Linked DNA regions of Homo sapiens. The protein of the gene in region 3 interacts with the protein of the main gene of each other region in a biochemical or structural test. Each region holds a gene or a part of one and is shown on either strand. Other genes may lie near its edges.

Region 1 (8,984 bases), on a different chromosome or scaffold from region 3:
TACTTTTAGTCCAAATGTCTGTAAGATTTTCAGGCTATGAGGTGACCATCTTTTAGCAGGCATGTTGTGAAGTATCTGTACCACCTCTATAACATTGGGACTGTTCCCAATATTCGGGACTTTCCTCTGCTGAAGAGGCAGGCCTTATCATGTATTTATACTACCTGACCACTTCCTTATCTGGCACCCTACTGGCCACACTTACTAGACCAGTCAAGGCCAGGCAATCTACTAGATGGTCAAGACCAACTAACCTGATTCTCTCTTGAGAATATGAATCAGAGACACCAAAACTGTAGTCAGTGTTGAAATGCTAAAGGTACGTAAAACTGAGGCTGATGATCACAGTCAGCCTTGGGCAAGAACAGGCCCTGTATCCTCTCAATTGCCTCCTTTTTTTTCCTTGAGTGGGTATATATTTCTTGCACTCCAGAGACTTGATCAGGAAACACCTTAACTATTGACAGGAAATGCTGCATGATTGATTGGTCATAGTTATTATTCTGTACTGCTTGCCCAAGCCATTGACTTTGTTTTTTTGGCAGTTACATATAAGCAAGTTGATGGGTCTGTTTAATTTCCTGGTGTGAAAACAAATTTGATAGCACTCTTTTCATTTCAATGCTGAGCTCTCAGAGTTCATTTGCCATTGCTTCCAGTCTGATTCTCTGAGAAACTGGTGCAAATTGCTTTGCAAATCCACAACCAAAGAATCAGTATCAGTGATGCTCTTTTAAGGAATATGAGATACATAGTTCCCATAAGCCACTGTTCAAAAGGCTCAAAATGAAATATTCTGAAAATGAAAGCAAAAGAAATCATAAAATATTACCAAAAAGGTTATGTGGTAGTGAATAAAAGCCAGAATATGATTTGAGAAGTGAACATTTGTTCTGAGAACAATGCTAATGTAATGGGAATATCAGGACCAAGCTTTACTTTTTCAGGTCATGGTTATTGATTTAAGAACTGATGCAAATGAAAATTACCAAAGAGCTGTTTGCAAAGATGTTTCAAGTCCAATAAGTCTTGTTTTAGTATTATACTATTGTAAATCTCTCAGGATGAAAAAGACTATATAGGTCATCTAATCCAATTACGCATTTCATGCTTGAAATCATTGCTATATTCTTAAAGAAATGAGAACCACACAACCTTGGCATTGTGGTTGATGACAGAGAGCTATCTACCATGCTTCATATAATAAATCTACAAGAAGAAATAAATGAATTTGGAAACACAAAATGGCATTAACAAGATATGGCTCTTAATAATGTTTGGAAAAGTAGTGCTTTTTTTAATTTTGTCATTCCTAGGGAAAAGGTATTAGACATTGTGGCAGAGATTGATAATTATCTCCAGACTTTTTTTTTTTTTTTTTTTTTTTGAGACAAGGTCTTACTCTATCACCCAGGCCGGAGTACAGTGGCACAACCACAGCTCACTGCAGCCTTGACCTCCCTGGGCTCAGGCGCTTATCCCACCTCAGCCTCCCGAACAGTTACGACCACATGTATACCACCAAGCCTGGCCAATTTTTGTATTTTTTTATAGAGATGGAGTCTCCCTATGTTGCCCAGGCTGGTCTCGAACCCCTGGGCTCAAGCGATCCACCCTCTTTGGCCCTCCAAAGTGTTGGGATTACAGGAGTGAGCCACTGTGCCCGTCCAGACTTGGTTCTTTTTAATTCCCAAATGTTTACTTGGCACGTGACTGCTCAAAATAAATATTACATTTCCAAACTTTCCTAATAGCCATTGGTTTCAGTTGCTATTGCTGTGTAACAGATTATCTCAAAACCTAGAGGCCTACAACAACCTTTTTATTATGCTCACAGATTCTGTGGAACAAGGCTTCAGCCAGGGCATCCAGTACAGGGCTGGCTTCTTCTATCATGCTGACTTGACTTTTACAATGTTCTATTGGTCAAAGAAATCACAAGCACATTCAGATTCAAGGGGAGGGGAAATAAGACTTCAATTCATTAGTGAGTAGTGGCCACGCCACACTGTAGGAGATATTGTTGTAGCCGTCTTTGGAAAATGCAATTTGCCACACCAAAGGTGTGGCCATGTTGACTAAGTTCTAGCCAAGAGGATAGAAGAGGAATTGTGTTTAACTTCCTAGAAGGAAGGGAGGGGAGGGGAGCTTCCCTTCTCTTTTTCACTTTCCTCTTAGCTAAAATATGACTGGCCCTGGAGCAGCCATTTTGGACCACAGACAGGATCATAGAGCAATGAGCTGGAGGGAGCCTGGGTCCCTGATGATCATGGAGTACCACACTGTGTCCGGAATTGGTGGGTTCTTGGTCTCACTGACTTCAAGAATGAAGCCGCAGACCCTCGCGGTGAGTGTTACGGTTCTTAAAAGTGGCGTGTCCAGAGTTTGTTCCTTCTGATGTTCGGATGTGTTCGGAGTTTCTTCCTTCTGGTGGGTTCGTGGTCTCACTGGCTCAGGAGTGAAGCTGCGGACCTTCGCGGTGAGTGTTACAGCTCTTAAGGCGGCGCATCTGGAGTTCCTCCCGGTGGGCTCGTGGTCTCGCTGGCTTCAGGAGTGAAGCTGCAGACCTTCATGGTGAGTGTTACAGCTCATAAAGGCAGTGTGGACGCAAAGAGTGAGCAGTAGCAAGATTTATTGCAAAGAGCAAAAGAACAAAGCTTCCACACTGTGGAAGGGGACCCGAGCTGGTTGCCACCACTGGCTCAGGCAGCCTCCTTTTATTCTCTTATCTGGCCCCACACACATCCTGCTGATTGGTAGAGCCCAGTGGTCTGTTTTGACAGGGCACTGATTGGTGTGTTTACAATCCCTGAGCTAGACACAAAGGTTCTCCATGTCCCACCAGATTAGCTAGATACAGAGGGTCCACACAAAGGATCTCCACGTCCCCACCAGAATAGCTAGATACAGAGTGGCGATTAGTGCATTCACAAACCCTGAGCTAGACACAGGGTGCTGATTGGTGTGTTTACAAACCTTGAGCTAGATACATAGTGCCGATTGGTGTATTTACAATCCCTTAGCTAGACACAAAGGTTCTCCACGTCCCCACCAGACTCAGGAGCCCAGCTGGCTTCACCCAGTGGATCCCGCACTGGGGCTGCAGGTGGAGCTGCCTGCCAGTCCCGCGCTGTGCGCCTGCGCTCCTCAGCCCTTGGGTGGTCGATGGGACTGGGCGCCGTGAAGCAGGGGGCGGCGGTCGTCGGGGAGGCTCGGGCCGCACAGGAGCCCACGGAGTGGGGGGGAGGCTCAGGCATGGCGGGCTGCAGGTCCCGAGCCCTGCCCCGCGGGAAGGCAGCTAAGGCCTGCGAGAAATTGAGCACAGCAGCTGCTAGCCCAGGTGCTAAGCCCCTGACTGCCCGGGGCCGGTGGGTCCGGCCGGCCGCTCCGAGTGCGGGGTCTGCCGAGCCCACGCCCACCCGGAACTCGCGCTGGCCCACAAGCACCACGCGCAGCCCCAGTTCCCGTCCGCGCCTCTCCCTCCACACCTCCCCGCAAGCTGAGGGAGCTGGCTCAGGCCTTGGCCAGCCCAGAAAGGGGCTCCCACAGTGCAGCGGCAGGCTGAAGGGCTCCTCAAGCGCTGCCAAAGTGGGAGCCCAGGTAGAGGAGGCGCCAAGAGCGAGTGCGGGCTGTGAGGACTGCCAGCACGCTATCACCTCTCAATACCAACTCTGAACTGCCCACATTTAGATTCCAGAGAAATAAATCTTAAGCTATTGTATTTCGCATTTTCTGCCACATGTGAGCAGTGTTTATCATAATTAATACAAATATTATCACAAATTTAGACAGGTGATACACATGCATCTTAGATTACCAGATCCGTAAAAATAATAATGCTTACACGGTAGAGAGTAGTACTAACATTGTGCTCCAACCGGTGACATGTGAGGCTCACCATATTTTATAAAAGTTTAATTCTTTTTTTTTTTTTTTGAGACGAAGTCTCACTCTTGTCCCCCAGCCTGGAGTGCAACGGCACTGCACGATCTCGGTTGACTGCAACCTCCGCCTCCTGGATTCAAGCGATTCTTCTGCCTAAGCCTCCTGAGTAGCTGGGATTACAGGTGCCTGCCACCATGCCCGCTAATTTTTGTATTTTTAGTAGAGATGGGGTTTCACCATGTTGGCCAGGCTGGTCTTGAACTCCTGACCTCAGGTGATCCGCCCACCTCGGCCTCTCAAAGTGTTGGGATTACAGGCATGAGTGAGCCACTGCGCCCGGCCAAAAGTTTAATTCTTAAAATGCTCGACACAATTAGAAGCACTTAACTACTGTATATTTAAAGCAACGTAACATTATTACTATAAAGTTGTTAAGAAATGAAAATAGAGAAATACATTGGCTCATGGAGTCAATACAGGATGCATCATTAACAAAGGGTTAACATCAAGATCCATTTTTACAAGAGGGACTAGTTCGTTACATCTCTGATTTCTAGACTTGGAGTTTCCCCAGTCATGTGTTTACTCTTCCGTGGGTGGGAAGATAAATCAGAATAACCAAGTGAGCTTGCTCTTGAAATATTTTATTTACAATGATATGATAATTGTAGAAAATGAAGTATGCGTACTTAAATAGAATTTAATTGACAAAAGACAATTTTCTCTACTTCAAAATTGTAAACATTTGCAAAGTAAGCCTCATTTCAAAGTCAAAGCCTTCTACTTTAAAAGCACACATTAGTAATTCTATTTTTCTTTATACTGAAGTATTTCAATTTTTGGACATACAAGTCAAAAATCATTCAAAGCATAAAGGAAAGTTTCAAAATAATAAGCGCCTCATCCTGCACTATCCTATTTAAAAGAGATCAACTAACTTTGATAGGTGCCTCTCAATAAATGGTGCCTTTGTCTCAATAAATAGTAAATGCGTGGAGTGCACAACGGAATAGCATCAGTAAGACGAAACATAATAAACAGGATGGATCGGGAAAGGCTGGATAAAATGTGGGGAAGAAAAAGAAAGACGTCACAAAGATGGGGTAGCATTTCTTTGTCCAAAAGAGAACCAGTACCACCATAAGACTTTAAACAAAGGACATTAGCAACACTTATCATGCAACTAGATTCTAGAAGGAAAATAAAATGCCACTACTAAGGTGGAGGCTGAAGTTTCAAGACAAATCTCCTGGCACCACCTCTGCGGGGGTTCACCATGGCGAATGACGCCTGGGAAGCGGGGCGAGTGGCCAGCCCGCTCCTGGACGCGCGGACAGGTGGACACGAAGGCGGCCTCGCTGGGCCTCCCTCCGCCTCTCCCGGCCCGGGCGCGCAGCCCTGCGGTGGTCTGACAGGCGGGTGCGCGGCGCCAGCCAGCGGAGGTTGCCATGGTTTCCGGGGGTCACGTGGGCGCGCTCTCCTGCGCCCCCTCCCGCGCACCGCGGCGGGGCGGGGGCGGGGCGCCCGGGCGGGGGAGAGGCGCGGCCGCGGCTGGAGCGGGAGGAGCAGGAGATGCTGCCAGCCCTCCCGGGGCCGCGCTCGCTCAGCCGCCGCCACCACACGGAGCAGACGCGCGCCGGGAGCCGCGGGCCGGGCCAGCCGGGCCGCCGGGGCCCAGTGCGCCGCGCTCGCAGCCGGTAGCGCGCCAGCGCCGTAGGCGCTCGCTCGGCAGCCGCGGGGCCCTAGGCCGTGCCGGGGAGGGGGCGAGGGCGGCGCCCAGGCGCCTGCCGCCCCGGAGGCAGGATGAGCATCGAGATCCCGGCGGGACTGACGGAGCTGCTGCAGGGCTTCACGGTGGAGGTGCTGAGGCACCAGCCCGCGGACCTGCTGGAGTTCGCGCTGCAGCACTTCACCCGCCTGCAGCAGGAGAACGAGCGCAAAGGCACCGCGCGCTTCGGCCATGAGGGCAGGACCTGGGGGGACCTGGGCGCCGCTGCCGGGGGCGGCACCCCCAGCAAGGGGGTCAACTTCGCCGAGGAGCCCATGCAGTCCGACTCCGAGGACGGGGAGGAGGAGGAGGCGGCGCCCGCGGACGCAGGGGCGTTCAATGGTGAGGACCAGACCCCCCACTTCGCGCCCCCGGATCCCCTCGCTGCCCCCCACCGCTCCCCGCTGTGCTCTCGGATCTTGCCGCTTTGCGCACCCACCTCTCCCCGCATTCTCCACCTTTCCCTACCTTCCCATCTCGCCCACCCCCTCAGCATCCATTTCTGTCTCTCCCACTCGCCCACCTTCCTACTCCGCTCTCTGTCATACCCTCTTCCCTTCCTCTAGAGGTGGGAGAGCTGGGATGTTACGCTTCCCTCTTACCCTTTGCCCCCTCTGCCTGGGCCGGTTGGGGTGGGCATCTGCTAGAAAGACAACTTTCGCTGTGGTTGGAGGTATTTCGCTTAGAGGATACCATTGTGCATAAAGAAACTGGCCCGCTTGGCGTCTTCTTTCAGCCCTTGTATTTATTAATGGAATGTCGAAAGAGAAAAGGAGAACCGTGTTTAATATGATTGGCTTTACTGTTGTTAGGACGGTAGATTCGCTAAAAGAAGCATGAAATTGGACTCACTGGGGCAGAACAAAATTTATGGCCAGTAGCTCTGACATTCTTGGAAATAAGAGTTATCTATTATTTTCCAATTTACCAATACCGTGTTGTGTTATTTTTGGACACGTAACAAAGGATTCTATTTAGTCTGAAACCCACGGGGGTCTTTGGAACGAGGAAATGGGTTAATGGTTTGCTTTTTATATAAAAGACATATTGAATGATTTGGTGCTTTATTTTTTTAAAAGTGTATGAGAAAAACACTGTAGGAAGTTCTGAAAGCTTGTTGGTTGTCTTTAGAATGAAAAGCCAGTGAGTAATTGTAAGGATTGTGCCAGACAGTAGAGCTAGAAAGAATGAATGGGAAAGAAAAAGGAATTTTCTCAAATAGCTGCTCCTGGCAAGTCCCACCCCTTCTGCTTACAACCCTCTTTCCCTAACACACCCAGACACACACCCTCATTTACAGCCCCTTGTATTACACAACATGCCCAAATCTCATTTTTATGGCAACCCAAGCTAAAATACCATGGAGTGCAGTGTGCAAGTGTTTTCTCTTTGTGGTGTAAGGCAAACATGCATGCAGCATTGCACCAGCTTTTATTTATTTACACTGCTTGTGGTTTGTGTGTCCGCAGTGTATTTCATAAAATGAAAACATTTAAAAGTGTCATTTCATTTCCTTGTGTATGCTCCTAGGAAGATGTTTCTTTTCTTTGCAGGATTACATGTTGAAATGGATTATAAAATTAGTGTATTTTTAGTTTCTCCAAAAGAATCCCAGAAACCCTGGAAATTAGTGCGCTGTGAAGATAAAAGTGAAGCTTGTTACTTACAATTTTAATTTTGGACTTCTAAATGTTTCCCCAAGAGGATAAACATAGTCTTAATAATTCTTTTTGCACAAGAATCGAATCAAAAGCTTTTCCTACCAGAAACGAGAAAGAGAAAAGAATGCATGTTTTAAATAGGTAAGAAGCAGCAGCCAGTAACGGATGACAGAAAGGGCAGAGATATCTAATACTTCTTTTATGCTCCTGACATGTTCGTGCACACACACAAAGGGGAAAAAAAGGACTCTTTTCCCAGGTTGGAGAAAACTAGGAACTAAGGGGCTTGGTAAAGACCATATATATATATATATTCTGTATGATATGTTGTTAATATAATCAAAATATTTTGTTTGTATAATGCATTTGTTGAAGTACTTTGCATTGATGATTGCATTTTCTCCTTATAACAATATATTGCGCACAGAAAAGATTCCATTTTCATTTTGTAGTGAAGAAATAAGCCGTTAACTTCTGAACAGCAGGGGTCATTTTATATGGCTTTATATTCTCCAAGGCACCTTTGCTGTAAAAATTGCTCAGTGTGACTTAAACAAGTTAAACTTGTTAAACAATTGCACTATTTACTCCCTAGCCTCACCCCCAAGGACTTTAAAACTTTTTGACTGCAACCAAATACAATTTGATCATTATCCAGGAGGCACATACATCTGTATAACAGAAACTTTGGCAATAGTACAGGTACTTCCTTCTGTCAGATGCAGTGCTTTTTGATATTTCCTATTTGAATCAGTTATTTCTCCCTATTTTAAATTGTATTGAGACCTCCAGTTGAAAAACATTTAATTATAGGCTACAAAGTGATTGGCAAGGTTTCTTGTAAAGGGCCGGTTAGTAAGTGTTTTAGACTTAGGGCAACATGTGGTCTTGATCACTTCTTCTTCAGTTTTTTTTTTTAAACACATACACCTTCTGAGGGTTGCGGTTGTACAAAATTAGCTGCAGATCAAGGCCATAGCTTGCCGACCCCTGGTTAGAAGAAAAAAAAAAAAGTCAAAATAGTACCATTGGGGGAAAAAACAGGAGTGATCCTAAAAAGTATGAGCCTATCAGTTTGACATCTATGTCCAGAAATGTGTCTCATTAGAAAAGAACCCCAGATACTGGGCAATTCTGGCATAGTAAAGAATAAGGATTGGAAAACAAGTCTTAATTTACTATGACACAGCACAAGACCTGCTGGGTCAGTAATTCTGAAATTTTCATAGATATCTCAAGGAAGTTTGATTCAGAAATGACCATTACCCTGTACCATTTTTGGAGAGCTTTTTTAAATAGGTTGAGATGGGACATGATATCCTTTTCTTCCCCCTCAGTAGACATCCCACCCAGGTCATTCTGATATCAATAGTTCCATGACTGTACTTTGGAAAACATTAACAGATAGTGATAATACTATATTCTTCTTAACATTTAAAACATAATTGCCGTTAGTTGACAATTGCTGTGTGCTGTCTAAATGCTTTAATTTTTTTGTCTCAGCTTTATGAGAACGATAAGGCCATCACTTGCCCAGTGTTTCACGTGAGCTGCAAAATCAAGATTGGGATACAGGTGGACCTGGCTTCATCCCTGTGCTCTTGACTGCCCGATTCTATCTCCAGATGGGGCTGGGGCTAGCATAACCTGAGTATCCCTTATATGTCAAG
Region 2 (5,914 bases), on a different chromosome or scaffold from region 3:
TATAACTCAACGGGGACTTAAATGTCACTTGTAAAATTAATCCATATCTTCGGGTATTTATAGACTTGCCTTTGGCATGTTGGTGGCAGGTGTGGCAGACAAAGAAATGTGTATCATTCGTAACCCAGGGAGGTCAATAAAGTTTGGAACTCTACAGGGAAGATTCTTAGTAGATTTGTTAAGGTTTTGTTTTGCTCTCAGTTAGTGCTAGTGATGTAGAGGCTTGTACAGGAGGCTGCCAGAGGGGAAGCAGCAAGCAAGACTCAGGCACACATGCTCTACAGGTGGCTCTTTGTTTGCCTGACCAAAGTTCTTTGCAAATCTTAGCACAGTTTCAAACTAGTGACCTGGGAGGAGATGGAAGGGGTGTTGAGCAGGCTGAGCTAGCTGCTGAGGTCAAAGGCTGATGAGCCCAGAGGAAGGGGACAGGTCAGGGATACATCTCACCACTGTGAATAAGTTTGTCCAGATTTTTTTCTAAAGTTACTTCCCTTGGAAAGATACACTTGAGAGGACATTGTAGTTAAATAATGTGAACTGTAACAGTCATCTACTGGTTTATTTTTCATATTTTTTAATTGAAAATTGAGCTTGCAGAAATAGCCACATTCTACACATAGTTCTAATTTTAAATCCAAATCTAGAATCTGTATTTAATTTGTTTTTTAACCTCATGCTTTTTACATTTATTTATTGATGCATGTCAGATGGTAGAAATATTAAAAACTACACATCAGAATGATACAGTCACTTATACCTGCTGACTTTATAGGAAAGCTGATGATATAAATGTGTGTATATATGTTATATATACATATATTCAATACTGCCTTTTTTTTTGTCTACAGTATCAAAATTGACTGGTTGAAGCATGAGAAGAATGTTTCCCCCACACCCAGTTAAGAGTTTTTGTGTCTGTTTTCTTTGTGTATCAGTGAACGATGTTAAGAATCAGTCTCTCTTTTTGAAGAAAAAGCAATATTCCTTGGAAAGCAAGGAGAATTGAAGGACTATGTTTGCCGTGAGGAAATAGATTTTCATGACTAGTTTGTTTTATACTTTTAAGGTTGGCATCTATGTGGGCCTTATATACTCTAAAATGAACTTTAGTCACCTTGGTGCTTATGGGCCATTACTTGACCTATGAATCTTTAAGGCACAATCAGTTGTACTTTACATTTAAAGATCACTTGAGTGATGGCCGCCTTTCCCTCCTACCCGCTCCTTCCCCACATGCCTTCCAAGGTTAGCTGGTAACTGTAGGGCTGCAGAGCTGAGCCCATGGTTGTGTGTAACTTGCCCTCACCCTCCTCATTGCCACCTTAGGTCACTTTATGGGTCTCGTCCTCCAGAGGGTTCGGAAGTGGAGTCTGTTGGCAGCCCTCCTGCAGGCCCTAGCACCCTGTCCTGCTCCTTAACTGTGTGTGTGACTCTCCAAGAGAGTTGTCCTGCCTGCTGAAGTGAACCAGTACCCAGAAAGACAACTGTGAGCCATCTTGGTTTTCACTCGCTGTTTAGCTGAGGTCTTGGGCCACAAAAGGGGTTTCACAAACCTCTGGATATATCAGAGTTTATGAGAAAGGAAACATGCTCAGTCAAACCAAATCAAACAAATTGAATTTTATGTTTTATAAAGTGCTTCTGAAAGCTAAGATTTGAAAGAAGTCTGAAATCAAAGTATTTGGCAGCATAACTCCTTAAAGGTAGTGGCGTTGATAGACCATTTTCAGACAGAATTTATAAAGAATCTGAAAAGGCAGGTCTGTGATAGAGAAATGGACCTGCATTCAGATCCAACTGCCCAGCAAGCGTTTGGATGCAGACACTGCTCTGGACGTGGTATACTCCCCAGAGTCCATAAAAATCAGTGCTTATTTTAGGAAACAGGTTGCCCCCCACAACTGGGGTAAAAGAAGAGAGAAAAGTCACGCTTTTCTCTCATTTCATTGTGTGTGCATGTGTGCGTGTGTGTGTGTGTGTGTGTGTGCTGAGATGTGTGATTTTTCTTTCTCAAGGATCATGGTGGGATCACAGAACTCTTTTATACAAGTGAGATCCAGGTCTCTGAATATCTTTTTGTATATAATAATAATAAAAAGCTCCTCACCAAATTCAAGCTTGTACATTATATTTTCTTTCTGTGTTTTTAAATTTAAGTTTTATTGTTTTGTATGTAAATATGTGGACCCAGGAACTGTTATTAATGAGCAAAAAGTTACTGTTCAGGGCAGTGATTCTGTTTAATAATCAGACAAAATGTAGACGAGCTTTTTAAAGCCATATAGTTTTAACTCTGTACAGTAGGTACCGGCCTGTATTATTGTAACAATAACTCTAGCAATGTATAGTGTATCTATATAGTTTGGAGTGCCTTCGCTTCCATGTGTTTTTTTTTTTAATTTGTTCTTTTTTAAATTTTAATTGGTTTCCTTTATCCATGTCTCCCTGTCCACCCCCTTTCCCTTTGAAATAATAACTCACTCATAACAGTATCTTTGCCCCTTCCACAGTTAAGTTTCAGTGATACCATACTCAGGAGTGGGAAGAGGAAATCATATTCGTAATTTCATTTCGTTGAAGCCCTGCCTTTGTTTTGGTTCTGAATGTCTTTCCTCCTCGGTAGCAGTGAGACCGGTTTCATTTCATACTTAGTCCATTCAGGGACTTAGTGTAGCACCAGGGAGCCCTAGAGCTGGAGGATATCGAATAGATTAAATTTTGCTCGTCTCTTCCACAAGCCCTAACCATGGGTCTTAAAAACAGCAGATTCTGGGAGCCTTCCATGCTCTCTCTCTCTCCTCTTTTATCTACTTCCCTCCCAAATGAGAGAGTGACAGAGAATTGTTTTTTTATAAATCGAAGTTTCTTAATAGTATCAGGTTTTGATACGTCAGTGGTCTAAAATGCTATAGTGCAATTACTAGCAGTTACTGCACGGAGTGCCACCGTGCCAATAGAGGACTGTTGTTTTAACAAGGGAACTCTTAGCCCATTTCCTCCCTCCCGCCATCTCTACCCTTGCTCAATGAAATATCATTTTAATTTCTTTTAAAAAAAATCAGTTTAATTCTTACTGTGTGCCCAACACGAAGGCCTTTTTTGAAAGAAAAATAGAATGTTTTGCCTCAAAGTAGTCCATATAAAATGTCTTGAATAGAAGAAAAAACTACCAAACCAAAGGTTACTATTTTTGAAACATCGTGTGTTCATTCCAGCAAGGCAGAAGACTGCACCTTCTTTCCAGTGACATGCTGTGTCATTTTTTTTAAGTCCTCTTAATTTTTAGACACATTTTTGGTTTATGTTTTAACAATGTATGCCTAACCAGTCATCTTGTCTGCACCAATGCAAAGGTTTCTGAGAGGAGTATTCTCTATCCCTGTGGATATGAAGACACTGGCATTTCATCTATTTTTCCCTTTCCTTTTTAAAGGATTTAACTTTGGAATCTTCCAAAGGAAGTTTGGCCAATGCCAGATCCCCAGGAATTTGGGGGGTTTTCTTTCTTTTCAACTGAAATTGTATCTGATTCCTACTGTTCATGTTAGTGATCATCTAATCACAGAGCCAAACACTTTTCTCCCCTGTGTGGAAAAGTAGGTATGCTTTACAATAAAATCTGTCTTTTCTGGTAGAAACCTGAGCCACTGAAAATAAAAGAGACAACTAGAAGCACAGTAGAGTCCCAGACTGAGATCTACCTTTGAGAGGCTTTGAAAGTAATCCCTGGGGTTTGGATTATTTTCACAAGGGTTATGCCGTTTTATTCAAGTTTGTTGCTCCGTTTTGCACCTCTGCAATAAAAGCAAAATGACAACCAGTACATAAGGGGTTAGCTTGACAAAGTAGACTTCCTTGTGTTAATTTTTAAGTTTTTTTTTCCTTAACTATATCTGTCTACAGGCAGATACAGATAGTTGTATGAAAATCTGCTTGCCTGTAAAATTTGCATTTATAAATGTGTTGCCGATGGATCACTTGGGCCTGTACACATACCAATTAGCGTGACCACTTCCATCTTAAAAACAAACCTAAAAAACAAAATTTATTATATATATATATATATATATATAAAGGACTGTGGGTTGTATACAAACTATTGCAAACACTTGTGCAAATCTGTCTTGATATAAAGGAAAAGCAAAATCTGTATAACATTATTACTACTTGAATGCCTCTGTGACTGATTTTTTTTTCATTTTAAATATAAACTTTTTTGTGAAAAGTATGCTCAATGTTTTTTTTCCCTTTCCCCATTCCCTTGTAAATACATTTTGTTCTATGTGACTTGGTTTGGAAATAGTTAACTGGTACTGTAATTTGCATTAAATAAAAAGTAGGTTAGCCTGGAAATGAAATTAAAATTCACAAGTGTGTGGTCTTTATTTCAGTACCCAACCCTCTTCCTTCACCCTACTATTTTGCCGCTGCAATATGTAGTCACATCACCATTTCCATTCCTCTAATTAGGGAAACATTAATCTTTGTTATACAGAACAAGATATCAATACCACTTCTTGTTCTTTCCAATGATTTTATTCCATTGTGTAGCCCCAAGAGGTGCAGCTTCCACCTTGGAAACCTTTGGATTTGATGTAGAGGAAGCTTTGCAGACACTGCTTAGAAAAGAAAGAAAACAACTCTGAAAGGGACAGTTTTTAAATGTGTATAAGCTGCTGTCTTTGATTACTGTGTTCATGATTTGGTGTGGCTGTATTTTCTTTTAACTTTCATCCTATTAGTAATGGTCTTTGGGGGTCTCTGTAAAATATATGGACACCACGAACAGTGGGGCTGTACCTCCCAGGTAACCAACACATGTTGTGTTTGAGTCTGCTCATTTCCAATACTGGATGATGTATGTAAACATGTTATGTCTCTTAGTGCAAAAAGAAACATCATTTTTTTAGGGCTGGCTCACTCTGTCAGGCCTAATCTAAAGGCTAGATATAAGGTCATGTGACTGCTGCTTCAATAAAAACAAATTTATATTCGATAAAGTGTGGTCCTCTTATTTATTTACTGTGGTGGTGGGGTTGGCTAATTCCAACATTGGTAAAACAGTTAAACACATTTAACCAGTAGGGGCGGCAGGGGAGGATTGGATTAGCAGAAACAGAAGTTACTTGTGCGATGCGCCTCCTGCTGGCACTGAAGTGCATTTGTTTGGGATTTGCTGCTGTCTTGCATAGGTTCTGGGATTGAGTTAAATATTGTGTTAGTGTCCTGCAAGACCTTTTAATTTAGAATCCTGAAAGACTGCCTTTTTAGTTTCTTTTCTTTTTTTTTTTTTTTTTTGAGACGGAGTCTCGCTCTATTGCCCAGGCTGGAGTGCAGTGGCGCGATCTCCGCTCACTGCAAGCTCCGCCTCCCGGGTTCACGCCATCTCCTGCCTCAGCCTCCCGAGTAGATGGGACTACAGGCGCCCGCCACCACGCCCGGCTAATTTTTTGTATTTTTAGTAGAGACGGGGTTTCACCGTGTTAGCCAGAATGGTCTCGATCTCCTGACCTCGTGATCCGCCCACCTCAGCCTCCCAAAGTGCTGGGATTACAGGCGTGAGCCTCCGCGCCCGGCCCCTGCCTTTTTAGTTTCTAAGTCTTTCCAAAAAGTACTGACCAAACAGTCCTTCGGGATCATATTTCAGGAGAGCAGTGATGGTAGATGTCATTTCGTTTTTTTTTGTTTTGTTTTGAGACAGAGTCTTTCTCTGTCGCCTAGGCTGGAGTGCAGTGGCGCAACCTCGACTCACTGCAACCTCCGCCTCTCGGGTTCAAGTGATTCTCCTGCCTCGGCCTCCTTAGTAGCTGAGACTACACCACGCCCGGATAATTTTTGCATTTTTAGTAGAGACAGGGTTTCACTTTTTTGGCCAGGCTGGTCTTGAACTCCTGACCTCAAGTGATCCGCCTGT
Region 3 (7,897 bases):
GAAGACTCTGGGGCTCTCTTTGCCTCAGATCTCTCACCTGTAGAATGGAGACAATAATAGTTTCTACCTCATAGAGTGGTTGTGAGGATTAAAGGAGTTTGTACATATAAAGAGCTTAGAACAATACTTAGGATGGAATATGTGCTGCACAGATGTTGCTGCTCTTCTTTATTTGAGATTTCTGTTTTTTTGTGGGGTTTTGTTTGTTTTTTGGGACAAAGTCTTGCTCTGTTGCCCAGGCTGGGTGGTGCAATCTCGGATCACTGCAACCTCTGCCTCCTGGGTTCCAGCGATTCTTGTGCCACAGCCTCCTGAGTAGCTGGGACTACAGGCATGTGCCACCACGCCTGGCCGGATTTTGTATTTTTAATAGCGCTGGGGTTTCACCATGTTGGGCAGGCTGGTCTCGAACTCTTGGCCTCAAGCGATCTGCCCACGTCGGCCTCCCAGAGTGCTGGGATTACAGGCCTGAGCCACCATGCCCAGCCTCATTTTTATTTTTATTGTAATGATAGCTTTATAGTTTTATTTTCTCTCTAACCCACTGGTCATAATTTATATCAAATTATGGCATTTATAGAACTTGAATTCAGTATGTTAAAATGATGTTTTATATTTTTGCAATCAATAAATGATCAAAGTTATTCCTTTGTTTTACATTATTTTGCCCTTTAGAAGTTTTAGTTGAGGTTATGGTGTGGTTAGAAAAAGATGGATATTTTTTTCACCATTCATTAGAATCCTAAGAACCAGAAAATATTTGTATCTACTTGACAACCAGAGTATTGAGAGTTAAATTGATGAGTTTTACTTTATATTGTTTACATTTAAATATTAGGTTTGGGGCAAGATGGAAAGACACTGCTAATTACGAATATTGACATGGAGCCATGCACGGTAGACCCCCAGCTAAGGATTATTCTTCAGTGGCTCATTGCCTCTGAGGCTGAAGTTGCAGAACTTTATTTTCATGACTCTGCAAATAAGGAGTTTATGCTAGTAAGTACCTACCTTACAGAGTGTGAGGATACATTTAACAGTATATGATGTTCTTGTCATGTGATTGGTCTAACAAGATGCCTGGTGATGGTTAAATTCTTAGGCTGTAGTGTCCAACAGTTTGGGTTCAGACATCAGCTCTGCCACTTTCTAGCAGTATAACCAGAGGCAGGTTCACCAGTCTGTCTCATTGCCCCTAACTGCACTATGCAAATGAATATAGAATCTACCTTACAGGGGTTTATGAGGATTAAATATAATGTTAAAAAAAATGCTTGGTCTAATGCCTGGCATAACACTAAGCTCTCAAAGGTAGATGCTATTAATAAGCATTGTGTGTGTTCCTATGAAAAAATTGAATTATTCTCTGTATTTAATTGATTTGTAATTGTACCTAATGATTAATATATCTGTTTCTCTGATAATCCAGTTTCATTTGTATGAGCAGCTGTCATAATTAAAAGCCGATAAAAGTTTAAACAAGATGCTTACTATGTGCCAAGTACCTTATTAGTCAAGATTTTCAGTTTACAGTCTTAAGGTTTTTGTTCCATAATTTTCTTTATCAGAACTTTCCTTTTGGGGTGGTAGAAATATTCGAATTGTGGTGTTGGTTGCATTCAACTTGGAGAACATACTAAAAACCATTGACTAGGACACTTTGGGTGAATTGTATGTTATGTGAGTTTTATCTCAATAAAGCTGTTTTTAAAAAGGTTAAGCATATATATGTTACACAAAATTAAAGTAGTTTTTCAGAATTTAACTTACAGATCTTTCAAAACTTAAGAGCTTTTACAGAACTTAGTAGAAAAAGAAATGAACAAAAGCATGTCGTGAGTGGTGACAACAGGATTTATTTAAACCTGTATTTATTTATTTATTTATTTGTTGTTTTGTTGTTGAAACATTAACATTCTTTAACTTAGAAAGCCATGTTTCCATTGAGGCTAGAGTGTGTATTCCAGAAAAATGCCACACTATATGTTGTGGAAGGAAAATCCACATCCTTTTATTGAGTTTGACGTTGTCTTTATTATTTTATGTCCTAATTGAGGGTGTGGCAGTTGTATTTAGTTAGGTGAAGAATTTCCTGTAGAAACTCAGCCTCTGCATGTCCATGCAGACTATTTGCTTGGTGAGGTTTGTGGAGCTCTGTCTCCAGCGATCCCAAAGTGTCATTCTCTGGAGGAGATGTGTTTATAAAGGGGAAGAAGGGAAAATGTTTAATTTGGGTAAAGGGGTAGCGGTTTAGAGGGGAAGACCTTGTTATAACTAGGAAACGGTATTTAATTGTAAACAGCAGGATTCTTAAGTTTCAGCTAATATTGAAAATAAAAATAAAAGCTTTGTTATAAAATTGTTTTTGGTTAATGTTTGACACATCTTTCTTTCTTAGCTTTCAAAACAATTACAAGAGAAAGGATGGAAAGTGGGAGACCTCCTGCAGGCTGTGCTTCAATACTATGAAGTGATGGAAAAAGCTTCCAGTGAGGAGAGATGCAAGTCGCTGTTTGATTGGCTCTTGGAAAATGCATAGAGCAAACCCCAAACCAGTATATTTTAGTATTTGTTTGGGGAGGGGAACAAGCCAATAAAGATGTTTAGGATAAAATTTGAATAGTGAATATTAACATCGTAAGTCAGTTGGGAGGCAAGTAAATATAGCTTTCTGAGCGCTTTGTGTTATCACTCGGTGTATATAGTTCATACTTTTGTAATCTGTCAAAATACTACCTTCATTTATTCTTCTATACACATGTGTAGTGTGTCAAGACCCTAAGAACATGTATTTGAAGGAAGGTCTAACCAGGGGGTTTTCAGGGGCATTGTCTGACCACATTCTTTTTGTATCCAAATAGTGCTGCTAGAAACTGCACTGAAGTGGCTGAGGATAGGTTCCAGTGATAGAGTTATAATTTTGCTCCTTTGCAAACAAATGGTATCTAATTAATAACTAGTCTGACATCAGAAAATAAAATTGAGGCTGATTTTTAAAAATTTCTAGTAGATTTTTGGCCTTTCCTGTTTTTAAAAATCAGTTTCATTTTCATATTTCATAGATCAGCTATTGGTAGCTTTTTGATTTCCCCAAACTATTTAATTTCTTAGCAGAAACATTAGTATTTTAGGTTTCTATAAACACTATAAGTGATAGTTTCCCCCATCCTTTCATTGACATTATTTGCCAATGCTGCCAGTCATTCTGGCATGAAAGGTGTGTGTGTGTGTGTGTGTGTGTGTGTGTGTGTGTGTGTGTGTAAGGGAGTACTTTAACCTTGCCAGTTTGTTCCCTCTTTTATTTTACTGTTTTCTTTTTAGAAACCCACTGTTAAAATTTAAAAAGGTGCTTTAAAATAAAACGCCTATAAAGATTGTGCAGTAAGAATTTTTATTGACAATAATTAAAATTTTTTTTGACAATTTTGGGTTCCCAACTTATCTTACAAGTGAAAACTTAAATTGTAAAACATGTTGAAATTTTAAAAATTAATGTTAATATGGAAATGCATTTAGAGAAGCCCAGTAGTTTTTATTGTTGGATTTTTGAAAAAACCTCTACCAAGAATGTGGTGTTTTTTTTGTTTGTTTGTTTGTTTGTTTTAGAAAAATTGGGATTTCCCCCCACCCCGCCCCACCCAGATAAACTATATCTACACTGTCTCGTCAAGTTCTCTGACACGATCTTTCTGGGCTCTACATTTCCTACTAGTTTGTGTCCAGAAACTGCAAGTTGACATGAATAGAGGACAAAGGTTGTGTCTTGCTTTTGTCTCTCTCTTCCCTCCCTGCAACTCTCTCTCCCCTCCTCCCACTCTCTTCCCCCTCCCCCCTCCTCCCACTGTCTCTCACCTCCCCCACCCCCCACTCTCTCTCATCTCTCGCTGTGTCCTGTGTATGTGTGGGTGTGTGTGTATTTGGGTGTGTAAATGTTGGTTCTTCCACTACTGGATTTTGTAATCTAGGATAAATCACTTTTTTTGGGGACTTTGATTTTGCTCCATTACGTTTTCATTTTTTCTGAGCACTGACTGTTCTGAAAGCTGCACAAAACGTAGAAAGAAGACATAGCGCCTGCCAGGGAATAGGAAATGAGGGCACTTACACATTAATGTGAATTAGTAATTGTGGTATAGAAATGTTTTATAGTGAAAGATTCAAATTTGCTTTTCAAGAAAAATGCCAAAAGCTATTTAAATAATTCGAGGTTACATCGTAGGTTTTGATTTTTCTCAATTTAAGATACAGAAATACAGCAAGCCTTAATATAAAGTTTCCTAAAGTTTCTTCAAGTATTTTTTAAGGTGGAGAAATGCAGGAATTGTATAACCAGAATTGTTCCTGCCTTTAGCTTTTCAGAACTTGAGATGTGGCAGCACTGGACTGGGTTTTTTTAAATGTTAGGACTAGGAATGTTTGCTCTTGTTAATTATGAATTAATTGATTATTAAGTTTAGAATGCATTTTTACAAGTATCTAACTATCAAATTGTGTTTAGTAACTTGAGTGTATGCACAAGTTTGATCAACAGCAAAATAGAGTTCTGAATTTCTTTTAAAGTGATGATATATTATTTTGTGAAACTTTGTGTTTGAAAATGTTTATTTCTGTTTATGGTGTAATCATTCTGAGGTGAGGCTTTTCTTATTTCCTTTGCATTTTGCTAGAGCTGTGCTGAGTTCAGCATTTGCTTATTTAACCACTACATAATGACAGACCAGTTATTAGGTATTAGCATGTGTGGTAATAATAATAGTGGAACTTCACACTTACATCAATTCAGTGCAGGGGCATAGAATAAAATATTAAATATTGGCAGATGTATGAAAAGAAGTGTGAGTTAAAAATATTGAATATTGGCAGGTGTGAAAACAAGTGTCAAAATTCCTCATATAGAGAAAATAATTTTGAGTTTAGAGTATTATCTTTTAATTAAGTGTAGTCTAAACTTAACTTTCTGTAAAGGCACTTTGTGGTTTTTCCAAAGATGTTCTAGATCTATTTGGTTGCTCTATAGTCAAACAGCTCTTTTGAAGACAACTGTCTTATTTTATTACAAATTGGCTTGACATATTTATACTGTAACATTGTAATATTGCTGTGCTGTACATTTTGGCCCTTACGAAATACGTCTTTTTCAGAACTGTTAAAGTTTTGATGTACATCGAGCTGAATTCTGTTTTTACCAGTTTCAAAACCTTCAAGTGATATGTGGAAAAAAGTGAATGAGACCTCTGATAGGGGGTTTTCAGAACCTTGTTCACACCAAAATGTGACAGTTCTTTCATGTTTTCCTAAACCAAGTTAAAATTACATGTATATTTTGGTGTTAAGGTTGATTTTTAAGATACTTCTGATTTGTACAAAAGGAATGTTTCCTTTATAAATCACAGAAGAAAATGACAATATCTGTTGGATATTTGATATAATTTAATGGTGTTATAAAACCTTTAAGAGGATTCATGGTGAATATATGTGATAACATCTTTATACTTTGAAAAATGTTCCACTTACCCTTCAGATATTTGTTGTAAGTTAATTCAATTCTTAATACTTTAATTTTGCTCCAACAAGGGCTTTATGTTGCTGGTAAGAGAATTTATTTACTAAATGCACTATGTATAAAGTGAAAGATAGTTTACTTATCTGACTTTGATATTAGATGGCTGACATTAGTGCACATAATGCAGAGTTTAACCTTGATTCTTCAACAGAGTCCAGATTTAAATGTCTACTTAGTTAATTAGTTAGCTGATATTCTTCCACAATTAATATATTCAATTTCCCATCAGTATATCACTTTAAATTTTATGTTTTTCTAAGGAAACTTTCCACAGAATTTTAAACAACTGATGCATCCATACTCAGGGTGTAGGGAGAATACTTTGCATTTAAAAACCCTGTCCACCTGTCACCAGCACAAGAGAATTAGAGCTTCAGTGAGAATTTAGAAAAATTATACTAAAGTGAGATGCATTTTTTCTCATTTTCAGCAAGACTCCTCTAAGCATTTACTCATTTACTGTATTCCTGCTCTGAAGATGTGGATACAGAATTAGTCACTCTTGTCACTTTATTTATTTATTGGTTTTTTTTTAACCATCTGTGTACATTCCTTTCATAGGGTAGAGTTCTAGTTCTAGAAGTTCTTATTTTGTTTTTGTTGTAATGTTTGAATACTATTTAATATCCGGTTTTAATATTGCTGGATTTGCTACCTTTGGTTACTTGTGCAGTGTTAAAAGTAATCCACTTTCTTGTTTAATATACCAGATACATAGCAAAAGCAGCTTGGAATAATTATAGCTGTTTATTTGGCTGTGCTCAGTTACTATATTAAGATCTTGTACTGTGTAACAGTAACTCTTTTTTGCTTTTCAGTAATTTAATATGTTCACTTAACAAAATACGAACTTTGAGATGCACTAAAGTTTTGTTTCAGCAGTGGCTCAAAAAATTTCAGAAATTACTTTTGTAATTATTTGCAATTAATTGTTCTTTTATCTTACAATTGTTTAAGCCTGTGATCTTTCTTCTCCCAGCTAAGAGTTCTTCAATAAATTTAAGAAATACCTGGTCTTGGTTTTCATTCTATAATATCTCATTAACTGCTCTGTACTGAGTGGGACTGCTATGACAGAAGACCACATAAGAGGACTGAAGTGCTAGATCATGGTTTTGAGAACAAGAGAAGTTAGAAATATTTCCAATTGGACACTAGATTCTACCTACTTATAGATACCCCAAATGCAGACATAGTGACTTAAAAGGCTGGTTGCCCAACCTGTTTTTGCAAAGTAGAATATTATGGTTGCCTTGAATATGAACATGGCTATGAAATTCTTCTGGCCTGGTTTGAACACTCTTTCCATAATAAGACCATACCTCTGTTAAACCATGTACACAAGATAACTTAAAAGCTGCTGGGTTTTTTTTTTTTTAATTACTAATGGATCTGACTTTGTCTTAAGAATTTTTTTCCTTTTAAATAGACCATTTTTAGAGCACTTTTATTTAGATGCACAGCAAAATTGAGCAGAAAATACAGAGCTCCCGTATACCCTCTTTGCCCAGCCTCCTTCGGTGTCAACACCCCACAACAGAGTGGGACATTTGTTACAATCTGTGGTCCTGCGTTGACACACACACCATTATCATCCACAGTCCATAGTTGACATTAGAGTTCACTCTTGTGCATTTGTAGGTTTGGACAAATACATAATTATATGTACATAACTGTAATATCATACAAATAGTTTTACTGTGCCCTATCTTAATGTAATTTAAGCCCAGAAATTAGGAAATTGTTTTAAAATTTTTTTCATGTTTTAAAATGCTAGGAAATAATAGCAAACAATGAGAAGGTTTGGTTGTAAGTGCACCCCAGTTACTAAGCAAACCAAAAGTGCTGAGAAGAAGTAAGCAAGATTCCATAGATTATAATGCCAAAAAGGAAGTATGGCTCAAAAAGAATGGGAAATGTGGCAAAGGACATTTGACAGTTTTACACAGAGGGATCATATGTGATTTGTATCTTAGCTAGGACAGAGAGGAAGGTGAGGGACAGGGCTTGAATTACCTCAGATTTTTTAAAGTGTGAGATGGAGAGGTCATTTATCTAAGGATGAATGTACTGTTGTTCCTATAATACAAAGAGTAAAAATCAGTGTTTTTGCGTCATTGAGTTTACAGCAAGAACAATAAAGAGTATATTTTGCACTTTTTTCTCTATCCTTTGTAATTTTATAGTCACCTCTCATTTTAACTTTTGGTCAAGGAGGGTAATACTTTAGACTGGAGAGAGTGAAAAACAGTTTCAAGAGGGGGTTGAAGCCCCAATTTTGAGTTTAACTCATCCCTCTGCACCCCTACCCCCTTTTAAACAGACACCTAAATG
Region 4 (8,287 bases), on a different chromosome or scaffold from region 3:
AGGTCAGGAGTTCAAGACCAGCCTGGCCAATATGGTGAAACCACATCTCTACTAAAAATACAAAAATTAGCCAGGCATGGTGGTGGGCGCCTGTAATCCCAGCTTCTTGGGACGCTGAGACAGGAGAATCACTTGAACCTGGGAGGCAGAGGTTGCAGTGAGCCGAGATCATGCCACTGCACTCCAGCCTGGGTAACAGAGCGAGACCCTGCCTCGAAAAAAACAAAAACAAAACAATATTTTAGGCTGTGTGTGGTGGTTCATGCCTGTAATCCCTGCACTTTGGGAGGCCAAGGCAGGAGGATCGCTTGAGGCTAGGAATTCAAGACCAGCCTGGGCAACACAATGAGACCTCAACTCTATTTAAAACACAAAAACAGGCTGGACGCAGTGGCTCACACCTATAATCCCAGCACTTTGGGAGGCTGAGGCGGGTGGATCACAAGGTCAGGAGATCGAGACCATCCTGGCTAACACAATGAAACCCCGTCTCTACTAAAAATACAAAAAATTAGCTGGGCATGGCGGCACGCGCCTGCAGTCCCAGCTACTAGGGAGGCTGAGACAGGAGAATCGCTTGAACCTGGGAGGTGGAGGTTGCAGTGAGCCAAGATCACACCACTGCACTCTAGCCTGGGAGACAGAGCGAGACTCCATCTCAAAAAAAAAAACAAACAAAAAAACCCCACAAAAACAGAAAACCCCAATATTTTATTTATTTATTTAAAAAAAACCCATACAGGCTGGGAACAGTGGCTCACGACTGTATTCCCAGCACTTTGGGAGGCTGAGGTGGGGAGGTGGGTGGATTGTTTGAGCCCAGAAGTTTGAGAACAGCCTGGGCAACATGGCGAAACCCATCTGTACAAAAAATACAAAAATTAGCCAGGCGTGGTGGCGTGCACTTGTGGTCCCAGTTACTGGGGAGGCAGAGGTGGGAGGATTGCTTGAGCCCTGGGAGGCGAAGTTGCAGTGAGGTGTGAGAGCACCACTGCACTCCAGCCTGGCCAACAGAGTGAGACCGTCTCAAAAGATAGATAGATAGATAGATAGATAGATAGATAGATAGATAGATAGATATAGACAGACAGAGAGACAGACAGACAGACACACACACACACATACATAGATACATAGATAGATAAAATAAAAGGCCTGGCACAGTGGCTCACACCTATAATCCCAGCATTTTGGGAGGCCAAAGTGGGTGGATCACTTGAGGTCAGGAGTTCGAGACCAGCCTGGCCAACATGGTGAAATCTCGTGTCTACTACAAATACAAAAATTAGCTGGGCATGGTGGTGTACACCTATAGTCCCAGCTACTTGGGAGGCTGAGGCATGAGAATTACTTGAACCCTGGAGGCAGAGGATGCAGTGAGCCGAGATCACACCACTATACTCCAGCCTGGGCAACAGAGACTCCGTCTCAAAATAAATAAATAAATAAATATTAAAAAATACACAGAGGGCAGCAAAGTTAACTCCCAATATTTTACAAATCCACCTACAGTGTAACAAAGATTAGTACAATTGCAATAGCAAACAATATTTCGGCTGGGCGCATGGCTCACGCCTGTAATCCCAGCACTTTGGGAGGCTGAGGTGGGTGGATCACTTGAGGTCAGGAGTTCGAAACCAGCCTAGCCAACATGGTGAATTCCCATCTCTACCAAAAATATAAAAAATTAGCCAGTACTGTTGGCACATGCCTATAATCCCAGCTATGCAGGAGGCTGAGGCAGGAGAATTGCTTGAATCCTGGAGGCGGAGGTTGCAGTGAGCCGAGATAATGCCACTGGACTCCAGCCTGGATGACAGAGCAAGAGTCCATCTCAAAAACAACAACAACAACAACAGATTTCTAACTAAAGAGAAAACAACAAATATCTTTCTTTTTTTTTTTCTTTTTTGAGACAGAGTCTCGCTCTGCCACCCAGGCTGGAGTGCAGTGGCACAATCTCGGCTCACTGCAAGCTCCGCCTCCCTGGTTCACGCCATTCTCCTGCTTCAGCCTCCTGAGTAGCTGGGGCTACAGGCGCCTGCCACCGCGCCCGGCTAATTTTTTGTATTTTTAGTAGAGACGGGGTTTCACCGTGTTAGCCAGGATGGTCTCAATCTCCTGACCTCATGATCCGCCCGCCTTGGCCTCCCAAAGTGCTGGTATTACAGGCGTGAGCCACTGTGCCCGACCACAACAAATATCTCTTACAGCGACTTTTTTTTTTTTTGAGATGGAGTTTCGTTCTTGTTGACCAGGTTGGAGTGCAATGGCGCAATCTTGCCTCACCGCAACCTCCGTCTCCCAGGTTCAAGTGATTCTCCTGCCTTGGCTTCCAGAGTAGCTAGGATTATAGGCATGCGCCACCATGCCCAGCTAATTTTGTATTTTTTAGTAGAGACAGGGTTTCTCCATGTTTGTCAGGCTGGTCTCCAACTCCTGACCTCAGGTGATCTGCCCACCTTGGCCTCCGAAGTGCTGGGATTACAGGCACGAGCCACTACGCCCGGCAAGCGACTTTTTTTTTTTGAGACAGAGTCTCACTCTGTCACTCAGCAGGCTGGAGTGTAGTGGCATGATCACAGCTCACTGCAGCCTTGACCTCTTAGGCCCAGGTGATCCTCCCAACTCAGCGTCCCAAGTAGCTGGGACTACAGGCATGTGCCGCCACATCAGCTAATTTCTTATTTTTCATAGAGACAGGGTTTCACCACGTTGCCCATGCTGGTCTTGAATTCCTAGGCTCATGTGATTTGCCCACCGTGGCCTCCCAAAGTACTGGGATTACATCATGAGTCACCACACCCAGCTGGTTCTACCCCTTTTTACGCATGCTTTAACACTTCCCAAAACTCTCTTTTCATGTGGTGCAAGGCCAGTTCCCATGGCTGTGGAGAATATAAAAAAAGCACCAGACATCAACATAGCCTTTGATGAGCATCCAATCGAGCAGTGAAGAGGAAATTCCCACAGGCAGCAAGTGGTCAGAGGCAAGCAAACACCCCTGAAGTTCAAAAGAGAAAAGGAGTGCTACTCTCTCCTGTGACTGCAGGAATTTCCCAGGAAACCTTCTATTGACTTTCAATAAAGCAAGAGAAAGCAAAAGAGACTACGTATAGGGGCCGTGATGGCAGCTGCCCATTATAAAAGCAGGAATGTAGGATCCAACTTGAAAAACTCAGTGACGACACCAGATCCTCCCTACTTCAACCTCAGAAGGCATTTCCAAGGCCAAAGAAGAAGTCAGGCTGGAGAGGACCTTCTGTGAGTTACTTTCCTAGAGGTGGTATTGAAGCTTTGGAAGAGTCTGGGCTTGCAAAGCAAGTCAATTAACAGGAGAAAAGTAGAGGCCAAAAGGATATCTTGATAGGTCACTGACCTAAGAAAGCAAGGAGAAGAGGAAATGACTGCCAAAGGCAAGGAAATAGAAAGAATAGGAGTCTTAGGAAAGGAAGTCTCAGGAAAAGAAGGGTGGTGAGTAGCACCATGGCCATGGGGAGCTTGTGCCATCATTCTGTGAACACCCACCTTGTACCAGGCACTAAGGGAGTCACTTCTCTTATGCCCATGTATTTAATCCTCATACCCCAGCCACAAAGCAGGTGGTTTTACAGCTCAATATACAGTTTTCAATTTTCATTGAGACTTGGTCTTAGAGATTATCCAAGAATGGGTTATTTGGCCGGGTGCGGTGGCTCTTGCCTGTAATCCCAGCACTTTGGGAGGCCGAGGTGGGCAGATCACCTGAGGTCAGGAGTTCGAGACCAGCCTGGCCAACATGGTGAAACTCCATTTCTACTAAAAATACAAAAATTGGCTGGGCGTGGTGGCACATGTGCACACGTCTGTAATCCCAGCTACTCAGGAGGCCGAGGTAGGAGAATCGCTTGAACCCAGGAGGCAGAGGTTGCAGTGAGCCAAGATCATCTCAAAAAAGAAAAAAAAGAAAGAATGTGTTATTTGGCTGGGCACAGTGGCTCATGCCTGTAATTCCAGCACTTTGGGAGGCCAAGGCAGGAGGACTGCTTGAGCCCAGAAGTTCAAGACCAGCCTGAGCAACATAGTGAGACTCTGTCTCAACAACAACAACAACAAAAAGACAGGTGTGGTGGTGCACACCTGTAGTCCCAGCTACTTGGGAGGCTGAGGTGGGAGGATTGCTTGAGCTCAGGAGGTCAAGGCTGCAGTTAGCCCCTGCTCACACCAAAAACAATGTTATTTAATTTCTAAGTGTCTGGAGATCTGTTATTGATTTTTAGTTTCTTTCTTTCAATTGTAGTTAGAGAACACATTCTGATTTCATTTTTTCTTTAAATTTTCATTATTTCTTAAAATTTTAAATAGAGATGTGGTCTCACTATGCTGCCCAGGTAGGTCTCAAATTCCTGGACTCAATCCTCCCACCTCAACCTCCCAAAGTGCTGGGATAACAGGCTTGAGCCACTGTGGTTGGCCTGATTTCAAATCTTTTACATTTTTTAAGTTTTATTTTATATTCCAGGATATGGCCTATTTGGGTGAATGTTCCATGGGCTTGAAAAAAATGTTCATTCTGTTGTTGCTGTGTGCAGTGTTCTATAAATTTCAGATAGCTTTTGTTAATTAATGGTGTTAAGTTCTTCTATATCCTAGCTGACACTAGCTGATTTTCTGTTTAGCTGTTCGTTCTTTTGTTTTGTTTTGTTTTTGAGATGGAGTTTTGCTTTTGTTGAATATACCTGTTAGAAGATCTGGATTTCAGGCTTTCCAGCACCCCATCTGGGATATATGGGAACCTGGGAACTCACTGTCATGTCTTTCCTCAAGCCCCAATATCCCTAGATAGTCTGCCTTCTTCTTTCCACCTTTCAGAGTCTTCCTATGTTTGCTCTATTATGTCCATAGTTGTTTGTGTGTGTGTTTAAGTTTTTAAGTGAGAACACTAGCATGGAATAGGGCTATTCCATCTTGGTCTGAACCAGTAGTTAGCACCAAGGCTTATTATTTGATTTTGTATTTTTTGAGATGGAGTCTTGCTCAGTCGCCCAGGCTAGAGTGCAGTGGCGTGATCTTGGCTCACTGCAACCTCCGCCTCCTGGGACTACAGGCGCCCATCACCATGACTGGCCAATTTTCATATTTTTAGTAGAGACACGGTTTTACCATGTTGCTCAGGCTGGTCTCGAACTCCTGACCTCAAGTGATCTTCCCGCCTTGGCCTCCCCAAGTGCTGGGATTACAGGTGTGAGTCACCGTGCCTGGCCCCCATTATTTATTATTCCCCTATACAAATCTATTCTTGAGTTTTTCAATCATTGAGTCCCCAAGTGTGTGACCTATCCTTAAGTCACTGTATCTCTTTCAGGAGCACTCTTAATTTAACATCAGGATGTCACAATAAAGTGCTTTTTTTTTTGAGACGGAGTCTCGCTGTGTCGCCCAGGCTGGAGTACAGTGGCGCGATCTCGGCTCACTGCAAGCTCCACCTCCCGAGTTCACGCCATTCTCCTGTCTCAGCCTCCCAACTAGCTGGGACTACACATGCCCACCACCACACCTGGCTATTTTTTTTGTATTTTTTAGTAGAGATGGGGTTTCACCGTGTTAGCCAGGATGGCTGTAAGATATAGTGTAAATCAACAGCCCAAGGACAGAGACACAGAAAGGGAATTAATACTGTGCCTTGCAAGGGGAACGATTTCTCTCACTCACCAGTCCCCAAAGGGAGCCTTCTGAGGTAGCAACAATGGTAGCAGCTCTCGGGGTGTTGTACATCAGAGCTAGTTCTCCAAAACTGCCACGGTTGTCATATTGACCAACAGAGCGGGTTTGATTATCTTTTGTTACTAAAATGTCATAAGTTCCCCTAGAAGAATGACAAAGAATAATTTAATTAGTTACTTCTGATAATAAATGTTAAGAACTGGCAGGTACATATAATAGAAAATGTTGTTTTAAGAGATTTCCAATGGAACTTTGCTAGTATATAAAAAAAACATATTTTTGTATTTTGACTTTGTACTGTGTCCTATAACCTTGCTAAACTCACTTATTAATTCTAGTAGCCTTTTTGTGGCATTCTTGGAATTTTCTTTTCTTTTTTTTTTTTTTTTTTTTTTGAGACGGAGTCTCGCTCTGTCACCCAGGCTGGAGTGCAGGGGCGGTATCTCAGCTCACTGCAAGCTCCACCTCCTGGGCTCACGCCATTCTCCTGCCTCAGCCTCCCGAGTAGCTGGGACTACAGGCACGCGCCACCAGGCCCAGATAATTTTTTTGTATTTTTAGACAGGGTTTCACCATGTTAGCAGGATGGTCTCGATCTCCTGGCTTCGTGATCCGCCCGCCTCAGCCTCCTAAAGTGCTGGGATTACAGGTGTGAGCCACCACACCCGGCTAGAATTTTCTACATAGAGGATCATGTCACCTGAAACAAAGTTTTAATACTTCCTTTCCAATCTATATGCCCCTTCCTTTTTTTCCCCCCATCTTTAACTTAAACATATATATATATACACACACACACATATATACATACACATAAATATATATATACACATATATACATTTTTTGACATATATATTTTTTTGAGACAGGGTCTTGCTCTGTCACCCAGGCTGGAGTGCAGAGGCACAATCATGGCTCATTGCAGCCTCCACCTCCTGGCCCCAAGCAATCCTCTCACCTCAGCCCCCTAGCAATCCTCTCACCTCAGCCCCGAGTAGCTGTGACCACAGACGTGTGCCACCACACCTGGCTAATATTTTATTTTTGTAGAGATGGGGTCTCACTATGTTGCCCAAGCTGGTCTGGAACTCCTGGGCTCAAGCAATCCTCCTGTCTCAGCCTCCCAAAGTACTGGGATTAAAGGCATGAGCCACCATGCCCGGCCTAATTTTTTTTCTTTTATTAATATATAATATTTTACATAATTTATGGCGTACATGTGAGTGTTTGTTGCATGCATAGAATGGGTAATGATTAAGTCAGGGTAACTGGGGTATCCATCACCTTGGATATATGTCCTTTCTATGTGTCAGTATCATTTCATGTCCTCTCTTCTATTAATAGTTACTTTGAAATATGCTAAATATTGTCACCCAAGTATAGTCACCTTATCATGCTATAAAACATTAGAACTTGCCAGGTGCAGTGGCTCACACCTGTAATCTCAGCACTTTAGGAAGCTAAACTGGGAGGGTTGCTTGAGCCCAGGAGTTTGAGACAATCCTGGGCAACGTATGGAGACTTCTCTCCACAAAAAGGAAAAAAAAAAGACATTAAAATTTATTTCTTCTATCTAACTGTGTGTTTGTACCCATTAGCCAACTTTTCTTCATCCACCCACCACCCTTCTCAGTTTCTGGTATATATCATTCTATTCTCTATGTCTACGATATCAATGTTCTTTAGCATTCACATGTGAGCAAGAACATGTGGTATTTGTCTTCCTGTGCCTATCTTATTTACCTTAATATAGCAACCTCCATGTGGCTACAAATGACATGACTTCTTTCTTTTTTATGGTCAAATGGTATTTCATTGTGTACTATGCCACACTTTCTTTCTTTCTTCCTTTTTTCCTTGCCTCCCTCCCTCCCTCTCTTCCTTTCTTTGCCTTATTGCATTGACTATAACCTCCAGTACAATATTAAGTGGAAGTGGTGAAAGCAAACATCCTTGCCTTATTCTGAGTTGTAAGAAAAAACAATTTTTCACCATTAAATATGATGTTAGCTGTAGGTTTTTAATAAATGCCTTTAGTCTAGTTAGGGAAAGTTATTTTTGTTGCTAGTTTACTGAGCATTTTCATCACAAAAAGATGTTGAATTTTGTCAAATGCTTTGCTGTAGGTATTGATATGAATGCATGGGTTTTCTTTCATAGTCTGTTAAAACAAAGATTAAAACAAAGCAGGTCGGGCACGGTGGCTCAAGCCTATAATCCCAGCGCTTTGGGAGGCCAAGGTGGGTGGATCACCTGAGGTCAGGAGTTCGAGACTAGCCTGGCCAATCTGGTGAAACCCCGTCTCTACTAAAAATACAAAAATTAGCTGGGCGGGTAGCGGGTGCCTGTAATTCCAGCTACTCGGGAGGCTGAGGCAGGAGAATCACTTGAAACCTGGAGGCAGAGGTTGCAGTGAGCCGAGATCATGTCATTGCACTCCAGCCTGGGCGACAGAACGAGGCTCTGTCTCAAAACAAACAAACAAACAAACAAACAAAACGATACAATTATTTATCTATTGATCGGCAATAATGGCTAAAAAAAAAAAAAAATCAGAACTGACAAGCAGAAATAGGCACTCTC

What was found.
Region 1: the proteins of AKAP11 (region 3) and PRKAR2B interact in far-western blotting, tested with the Homo sapiens proteins (one study listed by BioGRID).
Region 2: the proteins of AKAP11 (region 3) and GSK3B form a complex in vitro, tested with the Homo sapiens proteins (one study listed by BioGRID).
Region 4: the proteins of AKAP11 (region 3) and PRKAR2A form a complex in vitro, tested with the Homo sapiens proteins (2 studies listed by BioGRID, with this or other methods).

Annotation. Positions count from the first base shown.
Region 1 is NC_000007.14:107,039,220-107,048,203, forward strand, and holds the start of PRKAR2B (cAMP-dependent protein kinase type II-beta regulatory subunit), read left to right. Parts: upstream 1-5,485; 5' UTR 5,486-5,688; coding exon 5,689-5,995; intron 5,996-8,984. UniProt on the Homo sapiens protein: Regulatory subunit of the cAMP-dependent protein kinases involved in cAMP signaling in cells. Type II regulatory chains mediate membrane association by binding to anchoring proteins, including the MAP2 kinase.
Region 2 is NC_000003.12:119,820,403-119,826,316, reverse strand, and holds the end of GSK3B (glycogen synthase kinase-3 beta), read left to right. Parts: 3' UTR 1-4,996; downstream 4,997-5,914. UniProt on the Homo sapiens protein: Constitutively active protein kinase that acts as a negative regulator in the hormonal control of glucose homeostasis, Wnt signaling and regulation of transcription factors and microtubules, by phosphorylating and inactivating glycogen synthase (GYS1 or GYS2), EIF2B, CTNNB1/beta-catenin, APC, AXIN1, DPYSL2/CRMP2, JUN, NFATC1/NFATC, MAPT/TAU and MACF1.
Region 3 is NC_000013.11:42,316,690-42,324,586, forward strand, and holds the end of AKAP11 (A-kinase anchor protein 11), read left to right. Parts: intron 1-838; coding exon 839-999; intron 1,000-2,398; coding exon 2,399-2,539; 3' UTR 2,540-6,572; downstream 6,573-7,897. UniProt on the Homo sapiens protein: Binds to type II regulatory subunits of protein kinase A and anchors/targets them.
Region 4 is NC_000003.12:48,767,264-48,775,550, forward strand, and holds part of PRKAR2A (cAMP-dependent protein kinase type II-alpha regulatory subunit), read right to left. Parts: intron 5,846-8,287; coding exon 5,692-5,845; intron 1-5,691. UniProt on the Homo sapiens protein: Regulatory subunit of the cAMP-dependent protein kinases involved in cAMP signaling in cells. Type II regulatory chains mediate membrane association by binding to anchoring proteins, including the MAP2 kinase.